4 separate regions of the Homo sapiens genome follow, and all the other regions are reported to be linked to region 3. The links are microRNA targets in miRTarBase. Many come from high-throughput screens and were not tested one by one. Region 3 holds a microRNA gene; each other region holds the end of a gene's coding sequence.
Evidence for each region. Region 3 holds the annotated microRNA hsa-miR-6832-5p (AGUAGAGAGGAAAAGUUAGGGUC, at 2,384-2,406, opposite strand). A microRNA usually pairs through its seed, bases 2 to 8, with sites in the 3' UTR of a target mRNA and lowers its output. Matches are read on the target gene's strand: a 7mer-m8 pairs with bases 2 to 8, a 7mer-A1 pairs with bases 2 to 7 and ends in A, and an 8mer does both.

Region 1 (3,696 bases), not on the chromosome of region 3:
GCTAGTCCTGGAGGGAGGACAGCCCCAGGCTGAGGACAGTATTAGCCAGACTCCACTGCAGGCAGCCAGGTGGGGCCGGGGCAGGGGCACAGTGCTGTCCAGGAGGTCCTCAGTCAGGAGCGCCCAGTGGGGGCAGGAGGCTCCTGCCCTTTTGTGTCTCCCAGCTTGTTCAGACCCAGCTTGCATGGATCTAGTGCCAACTATTTGCCAGGCCCTGTATCAGGTGCCTTCAGGTGTGTTTTCTTGTTTAATTCTTATAACAACAAGCAAAGATTATCCCATATGTTAAGGTTATAGAAGCTTAATATCAGAACAGCTGGCAGCCCCATGGCACCAGGAACAGCATAGGATGCTCCACCTACGGCAGCTCCTGGATTTGGGGAGGCTTCTGGAGGCAGAGGGGTGAGTGCCCAGGTCTCGGTGTCGGCCCCTGGCACTCCTCCCTGCAGTCCAGCATGGCTGCTGCTCGCCCCGTGCCTGAGCATTCCCACATGGGTTGTAGGTACAAAGCCGAGTGTGCGGTGTGTGGTGGGTCTGTGTCACTGCCTGTGTCTGACCCTTTCTGTCTTGCAGTGGTATTGAGCACGCTGCGGCAGCTGAGCACCTCCACCTCCATCCTCACAGACCCGGCACAGCTGCCAGAGCAGGCGTCCAAGGCTGTCACCAGGATTGGCAAGAGATTGGGAGAGTCCTAGCTGCTTAGCTGGCATGTGGCCGCATGAGATGCCAGGAGACCCTTCCCTGCCCATGGAGAGTAGGCTGCGCCCCCCAGCCCTTCCTGACGCTCAGCCTCGGGGCCTCTCTCCAACTCTGCCGGCCCACCGTGGCATCGGGAGGCCATGCTCAGGTCTGAAGCAGGTTTGGGGCCTGCTGACAGCAATAGCCCGCCTTTGGGAACCCCTTGCTGTGAACTCTCTCACTCAGTGACCTCAGTCACCAACCTCCTCTGCCCTCGGGGCAGCCCACACAAAAGGGAAGTGCTGGCCGTGCTGGTCCTGCCCTGCTGGTGGCCTGCCGGGCCTGGCGCCGGTGAGCGGAATCGATGGGATGAGGGTGACAGGGCCTGCTCCTGTCCTGAGGCCCAGCCTTGTCCCTCCTGCCACGTCCTGTCCACATGCATGCCTCTGCCTGATGCCCTGCTCCACTCTCTGGTCTGCCCGTGGGGCAGTTGGAAGGCGTCTTTCTTTCTCCCCTCAACTCTGACAGCACCCAGCCCTTGTGGATGGACTTGGGCTTCTATTCAGGCTTATGCATGGCAGGCTGCCAGGGGGAAGTGCCTTCTTCAGAGGTCCTCCAGGACACATGTGTGCAGAAACGGTGGATGTGGAACACACAGGACCAGAATGGAAGCGTGTGATGCACGGTGGCTGCTCTGGCTGAGAGGCCCTGCTGGGCATGTTTCATCTGTCCCCTTTTAGCTCCACCTGACATTGCAGGATCCATGGGGACTCAGCCCAGGGCCTTCTCGGATGTCACCTCACCGCTGTGGCCCTTCTGCCGTTCTTCTCCACTTGGCTCCAGCTGCAGCTGTTGACAGATCAAGCATGTCCTGTGGGAGCTTAGAACCCTGAAGTTCTAGTGTCTGAAAGATCAGACTCCACGTCCTGCTGTCAGCCTTGTCATCTTGTCTGATGTCTTTCAGCTGGGAGCCCCAAACCAGGACAGTTCTCGGACCAAAGATGCCCCCACACTCAAAAGTCTGTCCCGTCTTGTGTTTGGAGAAGGAAACAATGTTGGCAGGCAGCACTCTGTGGTGGTCAGCCCTCAGAGCTGTTTCTAGGCATCTCTCAGATCAGACAGCAAAGAATCTACCCAGATCTGGGCTGGGTGGAGGTGTGGCTGGGCTGGGGGCCATTCTGAGCCTGCAGTGAGAGTTTGGCCCAGCCTCAGTCCTTGCTCTTCTCTGGCTACCTCTGCAGGGAGCTGCAGGGGCAAGCACTCTCTCCAGCACTCAGGAAGCCCGGCCGAGGGTACCTCCTCGTGGAAAGAATGCACTTTAAAGCTCTGCTGAGGAGTTCGGAGCCCAGGCTTTCAGGCGACCTCTGCCCTCCCTGCCTCTCCTCACCCTCCCTCTCTTCCTGCAGGGCCTGGGAAGGGCTTTGAGGGAGCCTGGGAGCCATGTGAAGAGGGGCACGCCTGGGCTGTCCCACAGTTTAGATCCAGTTGGAGGTTCTCCCTGGCTCCTGCAGGCCTGCGGGGATCTCTCCCCACTTCAGGCCTCCGGCCAGCTGCCTGCCCTCTTGTCTGTGCTTCAGCCCTGCACAAAAGCAGCTTGGTGACACCACTCAGCCACCCAGAGTACGTGTTTACAGGCTTTCCAGATCACCTTCCTGTGGGGTGAACGTAATGAGGCGGGGCTGGTCCTTGGAATTTCCCCTGGAAAATGGTAACAGACTCCATCCTTGACCCGGGGATGAGCATGAAGGCATTGTCCCAAAGGCAGAGGCCACCGTGGTAGGAATTCCACCAAGGCCAGAAGGGAAAAAGGAAGAACCCACCGTGTCTGGCTGTGCGGGCCCTGGGGAGGGTCGTGAGTGCAGCCCCTCTCTACTTCTGTGCCTTTGTAAAACGTGTAGATAACCGCAGTGGTTGGCTGAGCCAAGAACTCTCCTAAATCAGTGGCTTTCTCCCCACCCCTTGCTGGGGAGTCATTTTTAAAAAAATCTGTGGGATATAAAATTGGCCTCCTGCTGCTTCAGCCTACCTCTCCCTCTGCTGACTTAATGTCGTGATTCTGTTTCTTCAGATATTTAAGGCTGTTAGGTTGTGTGAGCCTTGAAGTGTGTGTGTGTGTCCCAGCGACTGTCCACTGTCCAGGAGATGCATGTCTTTGTATTGGAGATATTTCTGTAACTCATTCTCTTGGTGCTCACGATTGCCATGGCCATAGGGCCACAGTGCCGTATCTGCTGCAGACATGATTGTTTCTTGTTCTAGAGGTTTTCTTGTTTTCGAATCTTGCCTGATGAATCCAGCCAGACCAAGGGGCCTAGATTTGACCTCTGTCCTGGGCTCCTGGGCCAGGTGCAGGAACATCTGAGGCCACTCTGCTGGCCACCTCCAGTGGGTGCTGACCACAGGATGGGCTTTGTTTACACTCATTTTCACCCTGATTCTTGCCCCCACTTTCATAAAAGAAACTTCAAAATGCTGACGCTTTGGAGAGTAAGAAAATCAATCTTGGCTGGGCACGGTGGCTCCTGCCTGTGATCCTAGCACTTTGGGAGGCTGAAGCTGAAGGATCACTTGAGCTCAGGAGTTGGAGACCAACCCTGGCAACATAACAAGACCCTGTCTCTACAAAAAAAAAAAAAAAAAAAAAAAATTTAGCCGTGTGTAGCAGTGAGTGCCTGTGGTCCCAGCTACTTGGGCCTGAGGCTGGAGGATTGCTTGAGCCTAGAAGTTGCAGTGAGCTATGATCATGCCACACTGTACTCCAGCCTGGATGACAGAGTGAAACCCTGCCTCTAAATAAAAGAAAATAGAGGCAGACTGTGGTGGCTCACGCCTGTAATCCCAGCACTTTGGTAGGCCAAGGCGGGTGGATCACCTGCAGTCAGGAGTTCACAACCAGCCTGACCAACATGGTGAAACCCTGTCTATACTAAAAATACAAAACATTAGCCACGTGTGGTGGTACACGCCTGTAATCCCAGCTACTCGGGAGGCTGAGTCAGGAGAATCACTTGAACCTGG
Region 2 (3,696 bases), not on the chromosome of region 3:
TCTCATGGCCATCCTTGAGGCCATTTGTGCTTAGTCATGACCTTGTCAGAGAAAATATTTGCAATGGTGAATTTCCCTGGGCTCCTTCTCTTGTGCCCCTATGCTGTTGTGCATATGCATAAATACATGTGGGGAAAGGCTTGGACAAAATGCAAACCCTCAGACTGTGCACCGAGCCCTCCAAGAGGGAGGCAGAGGATACTGGCTAAAAGCTCCTGGGGATACCCTTGGTTATGTTTCATTTCTGCAGCCATCTCCTCCCGAGTGGATGCCCTTGTATCATCACATTCCCCTGGAGCCATATTGGCATAAGGGGAAGAGGAGGAAGAATTGAGACAGGGAAATTTCTGAGCAGCCTTTCTATGTTTTTCCTCTCCATATTCTGTGAGAAGCTTTCCAGTTCCTTGGACCCTTCTTGAAGTTGAGGACTGCCCTGATATAATGCAAGATTCTCCCTGACACACTTTGGTATTAATGGGAAGATGCTAATACATGAAATGAAAATTAATTTGCTTCAACAGTGCATTCTGAGAAACTGCTAAGAGGGAGGGAAGATTTGGTATCTAAAGGGAGTGCATAAATGAAAGAGACAAATTTCTGCCTCTATGTACCTAGAATTTGGTTGACGAGAAGAGAGCAAATGGGCCAAGACAAGGAGAAGAAGCTATAGCACAAAGCCTAAGAAAATAAATGTTCCATGAGAAGGCAAAAATGCTATGGACCTCGCAGAAGATAAGATGTTGCCTTCGGTTGGGAAGATGAGGAGAGTCCCGTAAAACAGCTGGAAGGGATTTAGGATGTTAGTAAGACATAGGCAGCAATGGAAGTGTTTGAGATGTGTGCAAAGGCATGAGCAGGAACATAGAGGGAAGAAATCCAACGTGTTGGAGGTGGCTAGTTGAGAAAAGAAGTTGGTTTTGATAGAATCTGTCTTAGCTAGGTTTATACCAGAAAGCAGAGACTGAGACAAGGGTTTGCATGCAAGATGATGACAAGTGACCCTAGGGAACATGAGAAGGGACTGGGGAAATTGAAACAGGGAAGTGAGAGAAGTCAATTCAGGATGTATTCTTGAACTTAGACCTGCCATGGGTGATTATGTCTCAATACTGCTGGGATCCTCTGAGGAACCATGAAGAATGAACGCATCTCAGAATTGTCCACCTGTGGGATGGATAAGAGAATTTGCTCCTCACCCACTCCTATTCCCCATTGGTCAAGGGTTCCCATGAAGCAGCTCTCTCTCACATCCAGGTTTATGCATGTGTGAATTCCAACTAGTTTCCAGCAAGTGTCCTTCCCTATGTTATCTTGGGAGCCCTGAAGCTGGAAGAGAGAAATGTTCAATGTTGCTGAGATAATACACTGCCAGGTTACACTGTCTCAAAGTTGGTTGCACGGCAATGACTGGAGTAAAAGGCCTGCATACAGCATGTAAGGTGGGGTTCAGGAGTATCCCAAAGAGAATGCGGGGCACTGAAGCAATAAGAGATAATGCCAGAAGCATAGTTTTGGGGACAAATTATGCCTGGCTGAGAAATTGGAACTTAGCAGTGGGTACCCATTGCAAGACCCAATATGCCTGCTTGTCATGTGCAAAGAAGGACAAGTTCTCTTGAGAGAAGACAGCCTGTTATGCTCATGTTCATGCTCAGGATATTATGGTATATTTATTGCAGTATACATGTACTTGGTTAGTGGATTTGCAGATTATATTACAAACTTTAATTAAAATAACTCTCACAAAATGGACAACTGGCTTAAAAGTATCCCTATAGAGGAGTGGTAGATTGAATGTACACTAACAAAATTCCAGAAAATATGAATAATAACAAGGAAGTATCATAGCTGATGCTTCTTCTTCCAGCAACTTTATAAAGTAAAAACAAAAAAACATTCAGTTCTAGAAGTTGTCTGAAAGAAATTAAAGCCAATATAAATGATTTTTTAAAATATGGATTGGTTTACATTCACCATGGTTAGCAATTGATCTTAACCAAAGTACAGTTGACCCTTGAACAGCATGGGGGTAGCAGTACAGTCAAAAATTCATGTATAACTGTTGACTTCAGAAAAACTTAACTAATAACCTGCTGTTGACCAGAAGCCTTGCCAATAACATAAACAGTCATTTAACACATTTTGTATGTTATATGTATTATATAATGTATTCTTACAATGAAGTAGGCTAGAGGAAAGAAAATACTATTAAGAAACTCGTAAGGAAGAGAAAACATATTTATTATTCATTAAGTGGGAGTGGATCATCATAACAATCTATCCTCATTATCTTCACATTGACTGAGGAGAAGAAAGAGGAGGGATTGTTTTTGCTGTCTCAGGGGTGGAGAGGCAGAAGAGGTGGAGGAGTTAGAGGGGGAGGCAGGAGAAGCAGGGACATTTGGTGTAACTTTTATTGAAAAAAATCAGTGTTTAAGTGGACCTGTGCAGTTCAAAATCGTGTTGTTCAAGGGTTAAGTGTATACACTGTGTGTCAAATTATTAACGAATGACATTAAGAATTCATTAGGATTAGAAAGACATGCAAACCTTTAATTTCACATTCATCTCATTCTTCAGCTTTATCTTTGGGGCACATATTATAATGTTTTATTGAAGAAGTTGTATGAACAAAATGTCATGAATCCACATCTCTACATCATGGGTTGGCAAAAGGAATAGGAATGGAAGGTTGCATGAAGCAGCATTTGGGGGGTTGACTAAACTGGGCATGGCAGCTGAGTGGATGGTGGGGTAAGATCAAGAAAGAATGGAAAGTGATTTTTAGGTTTCATCTTGGGATAGTGACATTCGAGTGAGGGTCTTGGTACAGAAATGGATGTTTGGAGGAGGAGGTGGCTTTTGGATAGTAAGAATGAGGTAAGCTATGGATGGGCTGAACTGCTAGTGAACTCAGTCGCATAATGATCTGTTAAGATGACTCTGACAGCTTGATTCTCTATCCTGGAACCAGCCACCCACAGCCTAGGCTGGATTTATTCCACAGAATCTAAGTAGAAGTTAGTGTTATTAGTTATGCCTCTCTCCTTGGTGAGAAAGATGGGCTGTCCTGATGTGGTGGAGGTGGCTATGAACCAGCCAGGGTAAGAGACTGACTGAAAGACAGAAGTGGAGCCTTCTTTATTGTGGAAAAAGAGAAAGGGCTTCTGTGCTTTCTTCTCCACATACAGGTCCATGATATTTTTTTCCTGGGGGTGGAAAAGAGGCTTGTTAGAGAGGAGGATAGGAGGAGGAAGCTAAAGTAACTCAGCTCTGAGTGTGTAACAGGAGAGGGACTGCTGCCCCCAAAGGAAGGGACAGAGGCTAGGGACAAAGGCAGATGAAGCAGGGCATTAGAGTGTTAAAAACGGGAACTCACTGGGTTCCCATAGCCTGGCTCCACCCCAGGATCCTCTGACACAAGGTGCTCTGACTCTTTGAAGCATCACTGTCTTCCCTGGAACAGAGGGAGGTTGAAATCTCTTTCTTGGTGCTTTTGATATGCATTTGTCTGCAGGTTCAGGCCAGTCTTGCTGCATTCTCAACCTCCAAGTGGGCTTATGCATTACAATTTCCAACAATAGCAGAAGAATTAGCTTCATAACTACAATGTTGCCTTGGTAAGAGTTATGTGTTTATGGTACACAGACCATAACCACATTCAAAATCTTTTTGTCTCCTCTGCTGTGCAGTCAC
Region 3 (3,696 bases):
TTGTGGGGAGAAAAGCTGTTAGGAAGCCAGAGTCCTAGCAATGCCTTAAGTCCACTAGCTTCTAGTACCCTAGAACTGTGTCTTCCCCTTCCCTCTCCCCGAAACACATCTCCAAGTACTTCTGTGATCCACAGGCATCGAGTCTTACCTGTAAGGGTGCAGTGAGGGTGTCCCAGGGCGGAAGCCTCCACTGTTTGGATGTAATTGAGAGTCCATGGCTCCCCCAGAGATCTGCAGGAGAGGAGCACGGTTGAAACAGCTTTAGTATCTGTGGTCAAGAAAAAAGATCACCATCCCACCCATAGAAGCAAAAAGTAGGGAGAAAAATGATGTGACAAAGTGGTATCTCACAACTCTGCAACGTAGAAAGGCTTGATTATAAATACATACCAGGCAGAAAAAAATTATTATTCACTGAAGGGGTCATGCAATGGGAAGCGGGGCCTACCTGAGAACTGGAAGGCCCAGCACTGCCATAGAAAACCTCAGGATACAGGCGCTGGCCTGAGGAGCTGGGCTCCGGGACACAGTGCCCAGAATCCAGGTTCTTGGATTGTGGCTCAGCAGAGGCAGCAGCACTGGGAAGCAGCTCCCAGTCTCGTGATACAGGAATGGCCTGGGAAGGAGAGGCCTCGTGGAGAGGGATGTCTGGCATCCTGGACGCCCTGGTCACTCCCAGCAATCTTCCCCAGAAATCTTGGGCCTTTCCACCAAACTCTTACTCCCACTTACCTCAGTGACTGATGCTGTTAGCTCCTTCTCTGCTTTCAAGCTGTCTCCTACCACTAGGCGTAAGTCTGAGTCCTGTGATCACAAGAAGGCAGGAGACATTGTCCCGTGACAGACATGTGTCCTCTATGTCCCACCTTTAGTCCTTCCCTTCTCTCCACCCAACTCAGGATACCCAGATCCAGCCCACACAGACCTTGTCACTAGTGCCAAACTGGACTGGGGGACCAGGTCGATGGGATGGCCGAATGGGGCCAGGCTCTGTGCCTCGGTCTGTACGCTGTGATCGTTCTGTGCCAATGGGGCCAGGGGGCAGAGGCTGCTCCCGGGGCAGCTCCTGGATTGGGCACACAGTAAAGTGCATTGGGGGAGGGAAAGGGAAATCCAAATTGGAATGCCCAGAACACACACGCAGAGAGAAAAAGCAGAAAAAGGTAGGGCCAAAGTCAGATTCCTGGAAACATTCCCCTTATCCTTTTTTGGTCTTTTACCTTTCTGTCCCCATCGTGGGGGGCAGGTGGTGGTCTCCTAGGAGGTTCAGAGCCAGGTGGACCCTCACAAGGAACAGCATTCAGGGGTGAGGAGCCTCCAGGCCTCTTGGGGGGTCCCTCTGCTGCCCCCTTGAGTCCTCCATCAGGGGAACTTCGCTGGCTGCAGGGACCTGATGACACCTGAGAATCCCCACTCAGGTCCACCCCACTGTCAGACTGACTCATCTGAGAGGAGTGGAGAAGGAGCTAGTTAAGTCAGGGTAGAAAGCACCCCAATACCTGACTGATGCACACATACAAACTGCAGAAAGGGGACAGCCAAGTGAGAGAACAGCTCCAGACTCAACCCAGAGCAGGTGGGGGGTATGACCAGTGCTCAAAAAAGTCCCAGCTCAGACACACCCTCCCACCCTCACTCACTTCTGTGCCAGCCACATCCTCAAAAGGACTCAGGGGCTCCATCCAAGGCTCCATGGAGCTGGGCCGGTAACTCTTTCGGCTAGTGGCTGGAGAAGGGAGCACCAACCAGAAGAGAAGTGAGGAGATGACAGTTCAGAAGCCCCTCTCATTCTTAACCCTTCTACCATAGTCCTTTCACTCAGCTTTACTCACCAGTATGTAAACGGTTCCAGATGTGAGGGGTCAGGGCCTCTGTGCCTGTATCTCTGGACTCTGCCTGAGGGCCTGGGCCCTCAGGCTTAGAGCCCAAGAATCCAGAGCTATGAGGAGGTGGCAAAGATTCCTACAGATGAGAAGGGCCAGAAGCAAAACATGAATTGGGTGGGAATTGGGAATTATAGGAAGCCAGGACAGAGTGGGGTGACACAGGGTGTGGGGACAACAAGGGAGACACATGGGAGACTAATACTGAGAATTCTGGAGTAAAAACACAGTGAAAGAAACAGGAAAGAAAACAGAGAAAACATAACCCAGAAGAATTTTCACGAGTAAGAGTGCAGTGAAGCACAATCTCAAACCCATCCCTTACCTCCTGTAGCAGCTCTGGTTTTCTGGGAGGCCGCTCCCGACGTTTAGGGGGAAAGGGACTAACCCCGGCAGAGTCCCGAGGAGTCCCACCCACCCCTCTCACCATTGGCCCCGGCTCCTCAAAGTGGGGGTCTGGGAAAGAGAAAAAGGGTCAGCATCTGCCTGGCTCTGCCACTGACCCTAACTTTTCCTCTCTACTCCACCTCCCAATTCTTCTACCCTTGCTCCCTGCAGAAACGCACCCAGCAGCAGGGTCCCTAGGCCAGGTTCTCCACCCGCTCCCTCCAGCACTTGACCTTCTCTGGGGATGGAGATATTCCCACCCATAACCCCTCCAGCTTACCAGAACTGAGGCCGCTGTTGACCCTCTGGGGCTCGTATCGGGTTGGGGGCCTAGGAGAGGGGCCCTGAGGGGCTTGGGGAAGCCCAGGCTTGTGCCTTGGATGACCCCCTGGTGCAGTTACACTCCCTTGACGGCTACTAAGCTGGGCCAGAGCCTGTTGGATGCCAGCAGGGTTGCTGTGGATAACTTGGTCCAGGCGGAAGACAGCAGAACTGCTGGGAGGTGGGGGAGGCAGGGGAAGCCCCGGGGGACGCTCCTCTGGAGGACGACTGGAGAAAACAGAGCATTAGCTCCAGTATCCACTAAATCGTTACTTTTTCCCACAAGTTATGTTTCCCAACTTCTGCTTACAACCTATTCTCTTCCCTATTAAAGTCCAGGTGTTTTTGAGTCCTTCTAAGGATTCCTATGCATACAGATGCACAGACTGGAAAGCAAAGAACCAGCAATGAATACATAGGTGGGTGTTCTTGACTCTAACACCCTACCAACCGCTTTCCAGTTGCCTTAGCCAGACATGGAAATCCTACTGACATTCTAGAGCCCATGGCCCCTCAGGCCACAATCTCCACTCCACCCAAACTTATCTTTCCCTCAGGCTTTTTCCCCCTCCTCCAATTTTTAAACCACAATAAATTTGTTTGTTCCTACCCACCTTCGGTTCTTGGGAGAGGGCCAGCTCCTCTTGTCGCCTCGTCCTGGCCCGGTCCTTCCTCCAGGACCCCCACCGCCTCCTCCACTGCTGCTGCCACTGCTGCCAGCCTTGCCCCCTGGGCCAGGGCGCCGATTCTGCCGTTCCATGCCTGGCCGCTGACTTGAGAAGCTCCGTTTACTCAAATCCTTGGCTCTCTGGCTCAGATCTCCGCGGGACATGGCTGAAATACCTGGTACGGCTCCACCTCCACCTCCCCCAGGAGTTCCCACAGCCTTGGGTGTCAGCAGTACTGGTGGGGGTGCCTCTTTGTCCCCTCGGCGCTCACTGGTGAAGTCACTGCTCTCTGATGCAGTCTCCCATTCCTCATTGGCTTGGTCTGAGTTCTGGTTTGACAGATCAGGAGACTTGGCAGCTGCCCGGCGAGGTGCTGGGGCCACTGTGACTGTTGTGAGGGCCTCCTCAGGTCCAGGAGCGGAGGCTGGAAGGGTTAG
Region 4 (3,000 bases), not on the chromosome of region 3:
AAAACTGGCCAGCTGTGATGGCATGCCCCTGTAGTCTGAGCTACTTGGGAGGCTGAGGTGGGAAGATCGCCTTGAGCCCAGGAAATTGAGGCTGGAGCTGTGATGACACTAGTGCACTCCAGCCTGGGGAACAGAGTAAGACCATCTCCCCCACTGCCCGCTACTCTCGCTACCAAAAAAACAGCAAAAGCAGGCTAGACTCCTCTAATTTCAGGGAGAGCTAGATGTTTTTTTTTTTCTCTTTTTTTCAGTTTTGCTCTGCCGCCCAGGCTGGAGTGCAGTGGTGTGATCTCAGCTCACTGCAACCTCCACCTCCCGGGTTAAAGTGATTCTCCTGCTTCAGCCTCCCAAGTAGCTGGGATTACAGGTGCCTCCCACCATGCCTGGCTAGTTTTTGTATTTTTAGTAGAGATGGGGTTTCACCATGTAAGCCAGGCTGGTCTCAGAACTCCTGGCCTCAAGTGATCTGCCAGCCTTGGCTGGGATTACAGATGTGAGCCACCACGCCCAGCCTCATTTTTTTTGAGACTGGGCCAGGGAAGGGGGCAGTGGGCCAGGGACTGTCTCTCTCTGTTGCCCAGGCTGGAGTGCAGGATCGTGATCATGGCCCATTGCAGCCTCTACCTCCCGGGTTCAAGCAATCCTCCCACCTCAGCCTCCCAAGAAGCTGGGACCACAGGCATGTTCCACCACACCCAGCTTATTTTTGGTAAAGATGGGGTTTTGCCATATTGCCCAGGATGGTCTCGAACTCCTGGGTTCAAGCAATCCACCCAGCGTTCCAAAGTGCTGGGATTATGTTGCGAAAAGCTGAGTGTTGGGAGAAGCTGAGGCAGGGCTTGCATTCTGACATAATGTAAAAGAGTCTTGGAATATGTCCAGGGTCAAGGGTCTAAAACCCCTTGTGGTCTTTGGAACACCAAGCTCTGTGCTAAAGGGTGGAAGGCTGCCCTGACGCACCATAATCTAAGCCCAGGGCATAAAATCCCTCGTGGCTTGGATAAAATCCAGGGCCTGTGGCTCTGGAATGTCTAGACTTGCTGGCTCCTTGCTCTCCCAGGATCGACTGTAACTTGAGTTAAAAGAACCTGCTCTCCATCATCTCAAGTAGCAGAGCAAATGCTAAACCATCACAGCTGTAAATCATGTGCTTAATGCAAGGTGCCCTTCTGACCTTCACATTCTCACCATCTGTTTCTTTGTTGGATTACCAATAAATAGTGTGGGCTCCCAGAGCTCACGGCCTTCACAGCCTCCACCATCCCGATGGTCTGCTGGTCCTACTTCTCTCTCAAACTGTCTTTTTCTCAATCCTTTGACTCCACTGGACTTTGTCACCCCCACGACCTGGTGTTGGGTCTGGTCACCCTAACAGGGTTACAGATGTAAGCCACTGCATCTAGCACCCACATTATCTTTGAAAGCAGTTGAGTCTTTGGCATGCAAGAACATTCCTGCACTGCAGTGAATCTGTGAACTTACTACTACGGATGCATACCAATTCACAACCAGTGAAAGGCCACGTACCTAAAAAGGTGTTTACTGCCTCAGAATATACTTGACAATTGTGGAAACGTTAGCAATCTACTCTTCCAAGATTCCTTGGAGTTGTCATACATAAGCAAATCCATATGGACTGAGGAATAAGGAGGAAGAGGATAAGGCTTATGGAAGATAAATCATGTTCTTGCCTCCGGTAGGTAGGATTCAATTTAGTCCCTGTATAAATGACTCCATGTTAATTTCCCTTCCCATATGGATGCTAATCCAGTGACTCATAAGCTTAGACCAACAAGCTCAGCATGAAAGCCAAGAAACTTCTGTTTCTCCTAAATTCCGTAGCCGACTCTCATACAGCGAGACCCTCACTGGGCCACTCTGGGAATGACTACAAATGAATATGATGGAGTCCATGTGAATAATGGTTGAGCAGGTGAGGAAAAGGGTCACATCACAGACCTCAAGTCAGACCCACTGATTTGGAAAGCCAACAGTATACTCAGAAGCAAAGCAATGTTATACTTTGTTTTTTCTGAGACAGAATCTCACACTGTCACCCAGGCTACAGCACAGTGGGGTGATCGTGGCTCACTGGAGCCTCAACCTCTTGCGCTCACTTGATCCTTCCACCTCAGCCTCGTGAGGAGCTGGGAGCACAGATGCATGCCACCATGCCACACTAATTTTTTTTTTTCTTTTGTAGAGATGGGGTTTTACCAAGTTGCCCAGGCTAGTCTCAAACTCCTGGCCTCAAGCAATCCTCTCACCTTGGCTACCTAAAGTGCTGAACAACCACAGAGAAGCACTCTATTTTTCCCTCTATTACATTAGCAAATACACAGAAGGACAATTTAGAAACAGATTATACCCAGGAACATATGTCAGGATTACTTATGGAGGTTTTATTATTTTTATTTATTTTTGAGACTGAGTCTTGCTCTGTCATCAGGCTGGAGTGCAGTGGCTCACTGCAACCTCCGCCTCCCAGGTTCAAGCAATTCTCCTGCCTCAGCCTCCCTAGTAGCTGGGATTACAGGTGTCCACCACCATGCCCAATTAATTTTTGTATTTTTGGTACAGACAGGGTTTCACCATGTTGGCCAGGATGGTCTCGATCTCGTTGACCTTGTGATCCGCCTGCCTCGGCCTCCCAAAGTGCTGGGATTACAGGCGTGAGCCACCGCCCCTGGACTACTTATGGAGGTTTTAAAAAATCTTTTAAGTCCAGGCCTGACGTTTAGAGAAGGTTACAAAGGCGGCCAGGATCTGAGTATTTCCAAAAAGCTCTGGAGGCAGCATTGAGGTTTCCTTCCAGTTGAATCACTGACTTTAGGTCGACTGGGGTACTTTGGGTTTTTTGGGCCATTTTTTGGGGGTGTGGGAAGCTTTTCTCACAGATTTACTAGGAGTGGTGAAAAACTTGGCCTCTGGCTTTTTTGGAGTCTGTCTCGCATCTTTTTTCCCCAGCGAAGGACTTTTTTCCTTCACTGCCTCTTCTTT

Region 1: miRTarBase lists MLXIP as a target of hsa-miR-6832-5p. Seed matches in the 3' UTR shown: 7mer-m8 at 2,545-2,551 and 8mer at 3,295-3,302.
Region 2: the mRNA of IL36B is a reported target of hsa-miR-6832-5p. The part of its 3' UTR that is shown has no 7-base or 8-base seed match.
Region 4: the mRNA of RSL1D1 is a reported target of hsa-miR-6832-5p. Seed matches in the 3' UTR shown: 8mer at 2,199-2,206 and 7mer-m8 at 406-412.

What each region holds. Positions count from the first base shown.
Region 1 is chr12:122,141,118-122,144,813 of GRCh38, forward strand. It overlaps MLXIP (MLX interacting protein), which reads left to right. Exons shown (of 17, transcript NM_014938.6): 17 at 574-3,696. The coding sequence ends at 695. Among named protein-coding and RNA genes, the nearest start is that of IL31, 31 kb to the right of the region's middle. RefSeq lists a silencer at 1,372-1,572.
Region 2 is chr2:113,024,907-113,028,602 of GRCh38, forward strand. IL36B (interleukin 36 beta) reads right to left here. Exons shown (of 5, transcript NM_173178.3): 5 at 2,527-3,209. The coding sequence ends at 2,997. Among named protein-coding and RNA genes, the nearest start is that of IL36A, 21 kb to the left of the region's middle.
Region 3 is chr6:31,632,502-31,636,197 of GRCh38, reverse strand. It overlaps MIR6832 (microRNA 6832), which reads right to left and starts at 2,411; the gene lies at 2,340-2,411. It overlaps PRRC2A (proline rich coiled-coil 2A), which reads right to left. Exons shown (of 31, transcript NM_004638.4): 16 at 3,206-3,696; 17 at 2,551-2,819; 18 at 2,209-2,339; 19 at 1,833-1,962; 20 at 1,641-1,726; 21 at 1,221-1,445; 22 at 926-1,066; 23 at 733-804; 24 at 449-616; 25 at 149-231. RefSeq lists a silencer at 1,356-1,519.
Region 4 is chr16:11,834,958-11,837,957 of GRCh38, forward strand. It overlaps RSL1D1 (ribosomal L1 domain containing 1), which reads right to left. Exons shown (of 9, transcript NM_015659.3): 9 at 1-3,000. The coding sequence ends at 2,830. Among named protein-coding and RNA genes, the nearest start is that of BCAR4, 7.6 kb to the left of the region's middle.